Homo sapiens: one gene and its partners. The protein of the gene in region 3 purifies or fractionates together with the protein of the main gene of each other region. This does not show direct contact. Each region holds a gene or a part of one and is shown on either strand. Other genes may lie near its edges. The genes, in order: MGA, ARID4B, MXD1 and TFDP1.

Region 1 (3,570 bases), on a different chromosome or scaffold from region 3:
GTCAAATGGGAGTAGTGGTTTCGGGATTTTAAAAATCTAACTCGGTAGGGACTCTCAAGCACCTATCCCCCAAATATTTAAGCCAGCCTTCCCATAAAACCAGACAAGTCTCAAAGAATAAAAGCTCAATAAATGATGCTTGATTGACACAGCCTAAAGAACTACTAAGCCATTTAAGTCATAATCTTAAACCTAGGCATCCAATTAAATGTATTATGCCTTAGTGCTCTTCTGAAAAAGCTTCTGTCTTTAATAAATCATTTAAATCCTTTAGGTTTCAGTCACAACAAAAATGGGCTCACCACCTTTTCTACATCATCAACCTCCTCACTCTGGTAGTCAGAAACAACATCCACAATTTCATCAATAGAATCATCAGTTTTCTCATTATCATCTTCATCATCTTCTTCCAAATCCAAAACAGTGAAGTCAGCACTGCTTCTCCCACCCTTCTTCTCTTGCTTTGGTTGTATCTGTTCTCCAGGTAGCAGTAAGTGACCCTGAAAATGTCCATTCCCTCTGCTGCTTTTTGCAGCTCTCCTAGGAACAATGGAGAAGGCTGAAGGATTAGAAATCCTACTCCAAGAATCACATTCAGTTTTCAAAACTCTGGCATCTTCAGTAATTCCACTTTTTCCAAGTAAGTCAGAGATGCCTTGTTCTTGCTGAAACACATCTGAATTTTCCTGACATGTCTTTGTTTCTTTAATTAACTGCTCGTCTGCCTCTTTCTTACATTCCTGTGAAGCTCCAACACATTTCCTGGTTAAGGGGCCCTTCAGATGTTTTCTCCATCTTTCCCTGTCTTTCTCCAGAGAGTCTCCACATTCCTTCTCTTTGGCCTCTGGCTGTAGATTAGATTGCTGCTCCATAACTTTGCTTCCTGACAATTCAAATTTACTTTCTTCCTTAAAGGTGACTGGAAATTCACTTGAGTTTTCTTCTGGATTGTCAAATCCTTTCTGCTGTTCCACCTTCACATCACCAAGTTTTTGATGCTGTACTTTACTTAAATTTTGGACTGTCTTATTACTGGCTTTTTCAGAAATGGTCCTAACTTCCAGAACAGCCACTTTTTCTTTGGAACTCTTACGATTCCTAGCCCCATATTCTTCATTAACATCTTTATAATCTTGATCTGTATGTGACCCAGTGATACAGGAATGCTCAGATGGTTTGACAGTTGCACAACCTTCTTCTGGAAGGCATTCTTCATCCAAATGATCACCCCTATCTTCCAAGGAATCATTCAGAGTTTCTTCTGAGGTAGCAGCTCCTGAGTTTTGTTTTATTACATTAGCCTCAGGGTCTACAGCCTCTCCTTCTGACTGTAGAACCTTCTTCGTTTCTTGCTCTCTTTTTATTGAGTTTGTTTCATCTTTCTGGTCTGGATTCTGAGATTCTCTCTTCATCTGAAGGGAAGCAACATGCTGAAGAATGGAGCTAGGAACAGGCTTTTGTCCTGGGAGCTGTAACAAGGCAAAACTACCAGACTGGAGAGGAATAAGACTGGCTGTACCAACAGGCTGTCCTCCTGAGCTATAAGTTATTTTGGTTTCAGAGCCTGTTTTACTTGCAAAGCTTTGTGGTTCAGGAGGAGAAATCCTCAGGGTCAATGTACCAGCCTGAGACACAAAACTAGCTCCAGAGGAAAGCAATGATGGTGCCTGAGTGATAACATTCACTGCTGAAGAAGACCCAACAGCTTGAATTACAGGATTCATGACAGAGAAAGCAGAGGACGAAGTGGAAGATGGCGGAGTCTCAGAGGGTTTGGAAGGAGCAGGTAACCGGATTCCCATCACAGACCCTGGTTTAAAAAATAAGAGAGAAATTTTTAAATCATGACTGCCCATATCAAGACTTCCAATGTTTGCTTTTCTTTTTGGAAAAGTAACTCTTAAGAGATGAAGAAAAACAATCTTGGTGTATTAACATACCATATGGCCAAGTGATTCAACAAAAGAAAAGTTCATAAAAAAGAACTTTATACCTGGGTTCCGAAACATGACAGGCTGTAAGTTGGGCTGGGTATTAGAGCCTCGAAGCTGATGCAAAGGTAGAAGCTGGACAATCTGCCCATTAGGGTGCCTGAATAAGTTCATTCCACTTGGACTCCTAACAGGCTGCAAGACCATCCGATGTCCCTGAAGTTGTGTGTTTGAGACAGGTCTAAGAGTAGGAGAACCCTGCTGCACTGGAATCAACAACAATCGAGGTCCAGCACGTTTCACTGTGTTAGGAGAGACCTGTGGAGTAGCCACTGGAATTTGAGCAGCATTTTCTGAAAAACAGGAAATGGAAACATGGTACCCAAATTCCCCTTTAACACACGTAGGAAAAAAAAGTATTCATAATATTTTTTAAGACACAGTCTTGCTTTGTTGCTCAGGCTGGAGTGCAATGACACAACCTCGACTGACTACAACCTCCGCACCTCCCTAGTTCAAGTGATTCTTCCACTTCAGCATACCGAGTAGCTGCGACTACAGGTGTGCACCAGCACACCTGGCTTATTTCTGTATTTTTGGGTAGAGACAGGGTTTCACCATGTTGGTGAGGCTGGTCTCAAACCCCTGACCTCAAGTGATCTGCCGTTCTCGGCCTCCCAAAGTGCTGAGATTACAGGCGTGAGCCACCGCGCCCAGTCTATATTTTTTTTTTTTTAAAGAGGCAGGGTTGCACTTGTCACCTTCAGTGCAGTAGCTCAATCATAGCTCACTGCAGTCTCAAACTCCTTGGTTCAAGAGATCCTCCTGCCTCAGCCTTCCAAGTAACTGGGACTACAGGGATGTGTCACTACACCTGGCTAATTATGTTATTCTTTGCAGAGACAGGGTCTTGCTTTGTTGCTCAAGCTAGTCTCAAACTCCTGGCCTCAAGTGATCCTGCCATCTCGGCCTTCCAAAGTGCTGGGACTGCAGCCATGAGCCACCATGCCCAGTCATTAAGGCACAGAATCTGACCTTGCTTCAAATAACGTCTAATTTGGATTATAAAGTTGCTGAAATTCTGTAGTTTCATAATACACTATTTATGGCTGAGAACAGCCAGACATTATGGAGCTTTACATTTAGAATGGTAAAAAATAGAGTATCAACTGTCAAGAGGCACATTTAAAGAGATAATACTTTTGCCTAAAGAAAAACATGGTTATCTCTCTAAATCTGGATTCCTGTTAAAGGGATCATTCATGATAAAATTATGCTTCAACTTCATTCTTTTGAGACAGCATCGCACTCTGTCACCCAGGCTAGAGTGCAGTGGTGGGATCACAGCTCACTGCCACCTCGAACTCCCAGGCTCAGCCTCCCAAGTAGCTGGGACCACAGGTGCACGCTTTTTTTTTTTTTTGTGGAGATGGAGTTTGCTATGTTGCCCAGGCTGGTCTGGAACCCCTGGGGCTCAAGCAATCCTCCTGCCTTGGCCTCCTAAAATGTTGGGATTATAGGTATGAGCCAATGTGCCTGGCCTCTTATGTTTTTAAATAAAATCCAGATTCTGCACAATTTAACTTTAAAATTAAAGCTCATAACACTTACTAGAGTTATGGGTCAATTTCTAAGCTTA
Region 2 (3,570 bases), on a different chromosome or scaffold from region 3:
ACTGAAAATAGTCCTTAATATAGTACTGGGAGTTTATAAGCCTAGTAATTAAAAGTATATGCTGAAAATAAAAACTGAAATTTGTTAAGATTCAATAAAACCAAAATATTAAGACTTAATCACAGGTTAAAATGTTAATGACATTATGTCTTATAATCATATTAATATAATTTTTAAATGATATAAATGAGGTAAATTTTAGCAGTAATTCATACTTGGTTCTTTTTTACCAATTTATGTCAAGAATAACTAAGCTCCCAGGGCACTGTTTGGTTAACATGCATACCATTTACAAATCCAACATAGTAGTTCTAAAAAACGTCTCATCTTCTTGGTGGGAAATTATTGCAAAACATTACAAATAAATGTCTCCCTTTTCTTCAAGGACTAGCCCAAGTCCTACATCTTCACTAAGATGTTCCAGGCTTCACTGATCAATCACTACTCTGAACTGTAGCATTTTTCTATACTACTCATTTGGTCCTTAACATCTGCTATATTTCTGTCTAATTCATATATGTTATCTCTCAGACTATATAAAGTAAGATTTTTTCTCCAGAGACTAATAAAGTACTATCTCCATTCAGTTCCAATGTCAGACACCAAATCAACCTTCTGTGTATAAAACCTAACTTCCTTGATCAAAAACAGGACAAGTAATTAACTGTCTGCAACTTCCTAGCTTTTTTTTAATGGGTCATATAATCTTACTTACAACTTTTCCTAATACCTTTTTAAATTTTTAATATTTCTTTTTTATTTTTTACACCAAGTATGTGACCCACCTAATGTCATTTTAATATCACAATTTAAGTGAAACATAAAGGAGACGTAGATATTGACCATACTGAAGCACAGAACCATAATTGTCAGGTTTCTCTCCAAGAGAGTTTAATTCTAAAGTGTTCAGATACTAAGAAATAAAAACCTTCAATGTAGAGTAAATTAAGAGGAAAAAACTACATCTAAATAGTAAAACTTAAATTTTAACTTGTGATATAGTGGGGAGTCTCCAATATTCATAGTAAGTAAATTTATTAAAATGTGGCCATGTGAAACAGGTGCTTAAGAACCTATTTCTGGCTGGGCGCGGTGGCTCATGCCTGTAATTCCAGCACTTTGGGAGGCCAAGGTAGGTGGATTACCTGAGGTCAGGAGTTCGTAGACCAGCCTGGCCAACATGGCGAAACCCCATCTCTACTAAACAAAATACAAAAATTAGCCGGGCGTTAATCCCAGATACTCAGCAGGCTGAGGCAGGAGAATCTCTTGAACCTGAGAGGTGGAGGTTGCAGTGAACCAAGATTGCACCACTGCACTCCAGCCTGGGCAACAAGAGCAAAACTCTATGTCTCAAAAAAAAAAAAAAAAAAAAAAAAAAAACCCAACAAAAAGAAAAACACCAATTATTTCTAAAGAGATATAAATTACCCTAAATTTAGGAGTAGCTTTCAAATTCCACAATTATTAACCTAGTCAAGATTAAGATTCAAAAGGGCAGTGTTGACTTAGTCTATTAGCAGAGAAGATATCCTCTTTTTTTTTGTTGTTAATTTTAATCTTTTGTAAGATATTACGAACATAATAAGGATACAACCTCTTAAAAACTACAACAATAGGCTAGGCACGGTGGCTCATGCCTGTAATCCTAGCACTTTGGGAGGCCAAGGCAGGCAGATCATGAGGTCAAGAGATAGAGACCATCCTGGCTAACATGGCGAAATGCCATCTCTACTAAAAATACAAAAAATTAGCTGGGCATGGTGGCACACGCCTGTAGTCCCAGCTACTCAGCAGGCTGAGGCAGGGGAATCACTTGAACCCAGGAGACGGAGGTTGCAGTGAGCCCAGATCACACCACTGCACTCCAGCCTGGGCAACAGAGCGAGACTCCATCTCAAAAAAAAAACCCCCAAGAAAACCTATAACAATAAAACCTGTTTTTTTCTTTCTTTTCTTGTTTTTTCTTTTTTTTTTTTTTTTTTTTTTGAGACAGGGTCTTGTTTTATCACCCAGGCTGGAGTGCAGTGGCGTGATCTTGGCTCACTGCAGCCTTTCCGGGATCAAGTGATTCTCCCTCATCAGCCCCCAAGGTAGCTGGGACTACAGGCATGCGCCACCACAGCTGGCTGACGTTTGTATTTTTGGTAGAGATGGGGTTTTGCCATGTTGTCCAGGCTGGTCTTGAACTCCTGGACTCAAGCGATCCACCGCCTTGACCTCCCAGACCTCCCAAATTGCTGGGATTACAGGTGTGAGTGACCACACCTGGCCAGTAAAATCTTACTGTTGAAAGCCTAATATTCTGAAATAAAGGATTCTTTCATTTTGAAGATTAGTCATGCCTGGATAGTTCAGTTGCATGAGATAGTATGGCACAGATAAAATCATAGTAGTTATACTTGTAAATGTGAAAAAAAGCAAAGAACATTTCAATTTAATTGCAAGTATTTTTTTAATTTATTTTAAAACAGAAATGTTTTAAGTCAAGATTCCTGAGAAAACATAGAATTAACTAATTTGATCTAGACCATATCTCTTTAAGCTTTGCTGAAAACCTAAAGCTAGCATTCTAAAATCTTTTACGGTATATAAAAAACATACTCCAGTGCTCTGTCTTTACGATGGAAAAGTGTGTTCCAAAGCCAGGTGTCAGCCTAGAGTATACTGATTTAAAGATACCTGAATGAAGTGGTTTATAAGAAAAATGATGACAGAAGTATGGCTATGGCACCATCGAAAGGCACTAATACTTTGGGAAGGTACCGATTTGAATTTCCACTTTTAACAATTTCACGGAAAATCAAAAAAGTATTACTGTAGGTTATTAACGTACACATTGGTCCTTCAATTTGGAAGCTATGCATCTAAGAAAGCATCAAATTCCTTTACAAACTCACACAAGTTAGTCAGGCTTGAAAATCAGTTTGACACGGTTGTCTGAGGAAAGCAGTGCCTGGACAGTTGGTTGCTCCAAACCCCTACATACAGTATTTGGTTAAGGGTGGAGGGGTCTGTCAATAAATCAAAATGTTCGTGAGAAACTGCACATTACAATTGCAAAAACAATGTTACAGAAATAGATTTAAGCTGCTCATGCCATATAGTCAACCACTGCATATAATGAATTCTCAAACAGGTTTGGATTTGGGCCTGGGTGCAATTTCTAGCATGTGTTCTGGTCCACAATAAAATGCCATGGATGGCTCAAGCAAAGCACATTAAAGCCTTCTCAAGCTTTTAAATGCATTCCACTATTCATTTTCAAATTACCTTTAAAATTTCCATTTTTACCATGTTCACACAAATATGACACTTAATCGCCTCAGGTTATAACAAGAGATACTGTGAAATCATTGAAACTTTAAGAGGGGAAACCCTAAAATAAGTCAACATACACATTTTCCTTCTCACCTTTTTCAGGATGTTCTGGTTCTGGCTGATTACTACTGCTTGAGCTCACACTGGCATCAAAACCTGCTGGCGAGCTATTCCCTTCAGACTGGAGGTCTTGGAGCTCCCCAGCAACACTATCCACCTCAATTGTGCTATCAGTTTCACTCTTGATAC
Region 3 (2,239 bases):
CTAATTTAATTTCATGCAGTGGGAAAATATATATGTGTGCTTCTGTAACATCCTGAAAACATAGCTTTCCATCCCCTGTTGGCTTTGAATGGTGGGCCGAGCACCCAGGTCGTCTGTATTTTGGTTTTCTTTTGCTAAGCAGAGATCTTGAATTCTTCAAGGTGCTGATAGCAACTGCTGGCTCCTTTCTGTAGTCACACACCTAATGCTAGTTTAGTGATTCAAAATGCATCACATTTTTAGGCAGGACCTAGATTTTCCCTGTCAACCTAAGATGAAAATAATTTCAGTGTTGATTCAGAACTGAACATTAAGTAGGCCCTCGTCCTGCAGTTGGCCACTTGAGTGTTTTGTTTTGTTTTTATTTTTTAAGGTGGGCATTTTCCTTTAACCTCTACTTTTTCAAAAGCAACAAAGGGGCCTCAACCTGAGTTTCCTATGGGCCTCTCTTCTGCATCCCCAAAGCGGCCAAGAGCAAATCCTGGGGGATAAGAAAAAAGTGTAAACTAGGTAGGATTGTGATGCTCAAAATAACCATCTAGCAATATCTTGGAGCTTGAGAATAGATTTTGTGGGCTTATTTCTTCTTGCCTCTTCCCCATCCTTTCAAGAGAGAACTTATTTTTGAAAAGTATCTATATATACACACACACACACACACACACATATTATTATTTAGGTTTTTATACCATACTGTATTGGCGAGAATACCACTATCATTGTCCTTTACAGTCTATTTCTTCCCCCAAGTCTTGGTCTTTTTTTATTTTCTATTTTTTCATGAACCACACAGGAGACTTTAACATCCTGGTCTTTTCTGTTTCTTCTTTGTTTCCCCAAGTTTGTCTGTCCCCCTTTGCCTTCCCTGAGTGTTGAACATCAGGTAGTAAAAGGCTAAACGCAATTTCTTGCATGTCAATCTATTCTTTTTCTATGTTTGACTCTGATGCAGTGTGTTTAGCGTGTCTAGTAGCTGGCTACTCCTATTTAAAAACTCTTCCTGGTAGAAGACAACCCAAAGACCCTTTTCGATGAGGTGGTTTCTCATTCTACATCCTCTGATCTCTATAGACTGTAGGATGCTTTGCTTTCAAAGATAACTGGGTTAGAGGGTGGGGTGTGCAATAGGTGATTTATCATGGTTTTTTTCATTATCAATATTACATGGATGATTTTCTCAGATTCTTCTGAAAGAAGAAATTGACAGGCACTGCTAGATTCAGCTATTGAATGGCTGAAGAGATTGAGTATTTGACCTTCTCTCAAAATCATAAAGTGAGAATTCATAAGGCACCCAATGTTAAGATTTATCCAGATTTTTACATTTTGATTTCTTCTCTCTGTGGGGTGGCAAGTTGAGGGAGCATTCTTCATTTTAGCTTTTACCTGACAACCAAACTTGCCTTTACCCCATCCCTAGAATTGGTGCTCTTGGAATATTGCTGTTACCATCATTTTTGGGGGGCCATCTTCCTAATGCTACACACAGCCTGACAGGGGAGCAGCAGATGAAAGGGTATGCTATTCTGTTTCCAGATGTTTCTTTATGTAAATATGACGCCAATGTAAATCCTGTGTCAAGATCATAGAGAATGGTGCTTTTTACTACAGTTAGCACATGCATTTTTAGAAACTACTACATGTTTTAGAGAATCTTTGCTGTGTATATGTAAACTGTATTGTTCAACTGTTAACAAATAATAAATTATTTCATTATTAAAGAAATTTTGGTCTTTCTGATGTTTTGTATCACAATTTACCCTTTCGTGGTTGTCCTTGCAGAACTGCGTTCATCAGATTTCTTTTTTTCTTTTAATTTAAGGGAAACTTCACTAGCTAAAAGTTTTCAGCCCTTGGAGCCTGTGATGAGGATTGAGATTGTGTGGCTCCAGTTGAGCCCATTTGTTGATCAGAATTAGCCACAGTCCCACCCTCTCCACTGCCCCATCATCCCACCTACTGGTTTCACCTGCTCGTTGACTCATTCTTGGCTGACTTGCCCTTTGTTTTGGGTGCCTCTAATGATGCAGGCTGTAAGCACTGCCAAGACTTCTGCATCTTTTGAGCAGCCTGTAGCCTGCTGGGAAAGATATGCACACAATTTAATGCAGTGTAATTAGTTGTGGAATAAAGTTGTGTGGGAAAGCTCCATGAGAAGTTAGAGGTGGTGCATTCGAGCTGGGCCCTGGAGGAGGAGTGAGTGTTTGCTGGGAAAGGAGCATTGCTGGGAAGGAGAACA
Region 4 (2,681 bases), on a different chromosome or scaffold from region 3:
GCTGACCAAGCCTCCCTTGAAAGCTTTAAGCCTTCAGTAGATTCCGTAGTTACAGAACAGCTGCATCAGGCAGATCCTGCCCGCGAGGTAGACATCTACCTGGGCAGCCAGATTCCTGGTGCTCCCTATTCCACCATCTTCCCAGAATCCTCTCAATCTTATTCTTGTTCTCAAAGTCAAACTTTTAAATTTTGTCTCAATTTTCATTGTGAAAAAAGGCCAAGGAACTTGGCTTATCTTTCTCTGCACCACAGGCACCGAAAAGGAAGGTGCCTCTTTGCCCTGTGTCCACCAAGACCTCCACCCTTGGCCACCTTCCACCTTTTCAGGGTGGGCTCCCGGAGGATGTGCCTCAGACAACATGTGGTGGTGGGGTTTGCACCCACAGGGACCACCCGGGCCCACCGCGTCTGGGCCTAACAACCTACTTTCTCACTCAAGTATAAAGTAAAACCAACAAGACAGACAAATTTCTAGATAATAATCCTGAATTAGAGAAACACAGCTTGTTTAAAATGCCCATGCGCGTTTTATTAATAAAAACTAACAGTGCCAAGTTAAACAAGTCAAACAATTAAAGTCTCTTTATATACCATAAAATATTACAGAAAAGTTTATTTGTGTTTCAATAAAAAGACTATCGTTTTAGAACAGGCAGCTAATAGCAACTGTGCAGTTAATGGGTTTTGTGAATAAATTTTAAAAGAGACTACTGCCTGTCCTTAAATTCCTTTTTCTTTTTATAAAAAAAGAACTATTAAAAATGATTGACAAATTTTGAGTTAAAAAATTGTTAAAACATTCTCTATATTTAATTTCAATTTTATAATAGATTACAGGAAGATGCTTATGAAACAAATACATTTGTTTCAGTACATGTCTTTAAATGATAGACTTATAAGTATGTAAACAACTATATAATAAAAGGTTTCCAAACGCTGCCTGTAAGAAATCAGGCAAATTTTACCATAAGCAATAAACCATTCCAAGCCTTCCAGACAGTCTCCATAGCCGCACCAGCATGGCAATAAGCTTTAACCAAACGAAAACAAACAAACAAAAGCACTTCGCAATTTGTTGCTGCAAAACAGGGAGAGAAAAGAGTGTACAAACTTGATGGAATCACAACAGTCAATATAATTTAAGGGACAATAAAGTCAATAAGGTTGATGGTGTTTATTGTTTAAAAAGTTGAATTCTGCTGTTTGCTTGGGGCTGTTTAGAAAGTTGCATTCTGCTGTTTGCTTGGACACCGTACCACTGAACAAACTCCACAGAGTCTTGCTATCCGCCAGCAGGGGTGCCGTCCAAACTCACGGCAAATAAGCGGCATCAGGGGCTCACCATCCACAACAGGAGGTGTTTTATTTTCATGGATGTGGTTGAAATACAATTTCTTCAGCAAACTCAGCAAAAACTTTTCAGGGGCAAAAATGAACTCTGCACTTAAAGAAAAATAGCAAATGAAAACACAAAATCCTAACAAGTAAATAAACGCTCTGCATCAGCACACTGGTATCAAAACACACATCCACAGCACGTCCTAATCCTACGGGAAACAATCCTTGCTTATCAGAGGTGCATATCTAAATTCAATAGCTTACCAATATCTTCTTGGGAGTAGGCCAAAAGGAAACAGAAAACCCACATTAAAAAAAAAGTTTCTTTTCGCTAAACGTTTTCCTGAAGCCGAATCTGAAGTGGGGAGGACGTCAGTCGTCCTCGTCATTCTCGTTGAAGTCATCGTCCTCCTCGTCGTCCTCCCCGACGTAGGACACCGGAGTCTCCACCCTGGAGCCGCTGTACTGAGACCCATTGGAGCTTGTGGCCAGCATCCCATCTGCACCGTTGGTCAGGTCACTGCAAGGCAGGAGGCGGATGGCGCCGTCAGTGCAGGCGGCCCACCCAGCCTCCCCCCGCCTCAGGGCTTGTGGTCAAATGACAGGCTGTGCCCCACAGGTGTGGGTTTTGTCAGTCACACAAACAGAACGGGGAGGCTGAGTGTCTGCACTACAGCACGCCAACGCTCTGGCACTTACTCCATCTCTGTCTGGTTCTCTTCTGGCCCTGTCTCCTGGAACCCATAACGACAGAAACAGGAGGCTGAGCAGAGCCACACGCTGCCTCTCCCTCACTCATCATTCCATCAGGAGCAGTGCCCCAGAGGGAACAAACTGTAAAACCATTAGATCCCTCCCTCCGGGACTTTCACTCATAACCAGCAACAGGAAAAAAGAGAGCCCGGGGCAGGACAGGATGGAGTCCAGAGCGTGGGTCGAATCTGGCAGCGGGGACTGAGAACCCAGAGGGCTGGCAGCACCACAAAAACCTACCACCAACCAGAGCTCACTACGTTCCTAATGTTTAAAGATGTTTTCAATTAACATAAAACCATATGTACATATTTTAATACATTTTAATGGTATTTATTAACACTACAATAAAAATGTGTTAATGTGCCTTTTGATGAAGTAATTCTGTATCTTGGAAACAAGTCAGAAATGGCGAGAAATTCAGCTGTAAAGCTGCTCACTGCAGTTTTTATTCTAACTGGGAACTACCTAGATGTCCTTTCATGAGGTACTTGTATAAAATGTCTCATCATGCCACTATGAAAATCGGTATTTCGTAAGAAATGGTAATAGCTTTGTTTCCATTGTTATGAAAAACTGACAAGTCTG

The links.
Region 1: the proteins of MXD1 (region 3) and MGA purify together in Homo sapiens (affinity purification with mass spectrometry, with the first as the bait; one large-scale study listed by BioGRID). This does not show direct contact.
Region 2: the proteins of MXD1 (region 3) and ARID4B purify together in Homo sapiens (affinity purification with mass spectrometry; 3 studies listed by BioGRID and IntAct, with this or other methods). This does not show direct contact.
Region 4: the proteins of MXD1 (region 3) and TFDP1 purify together in Homo sapiens (affinity purification with mass spectrometry, with the first as the bait; one large-scale study listed by BioGRID). This does not show direct contact.

The regions. Positions count from the first base shown.
Region 1 is NC_000015.10:41,747,351-41,750,920, reverse strand, and holds part of MGA (MAX gene-associated protein), read right to left. Parts: intron 2,285-3,570; coding exon 1,994-2,284; intron 1,811-1,993; coding exon 306-1,810; coding exon of another isoform or gene 303-305; intron 1-302. UniProt on the Homo sapiens protein: Functions as a dual-specificity transcription factor, regulating the expression of both MAX-network and T-box family target genes. Functions as a repressor or an activator.
Region 2 is NC_000001.11:235,178,171-235,181,740, forward strand, and holds part of ARID4B (AT-rich interactive domain-containing protein 4B), read right to left. Parts: coding exon 3,415-3,570; intron 3,015-3,414; coding exon of another isoform or gene 2,923-3,014; exon of another isoform or gene 2,901-2,922; intron 1-2,900. UniProt on the Homo sapiens protein: Acts as a transcriptional repressor. May function in the assembly and/or enzymatic activity of the Sin3A corepressor complex or in mediating interactions between the complex and other regulatory complexes.
Region 3 is NC_000002.12:69,941,221-69,943,459, forward strand, and holds the end of MXD1 (max dimerization protein 1), read left to right. Parts: 3' UTR 1-1,725; downstream 1,726-2,239. UniProt on the Homo sapiens protein: Component of a transcriptional repressor complex together with MAX. In complex with MAX binds to the core DNA sequence 5'-CAC[GA]TG-3'. Antagonizes MYC transcriptional activity by competing with MYC for MAX binding.
Region 4 is NC_000013.11:113,639,299-113,641,979, reverse strand, and holds the end of TFDP1 (transcription factor Dp-1), read right to left. Parts: intron 1,861-2,681; coding exon 1,713-1,860; 3' UTR 507-1,712; downstream 1-506. UniProt on the Homo sapiens protein: Can stimulate E2F-dependent transcription.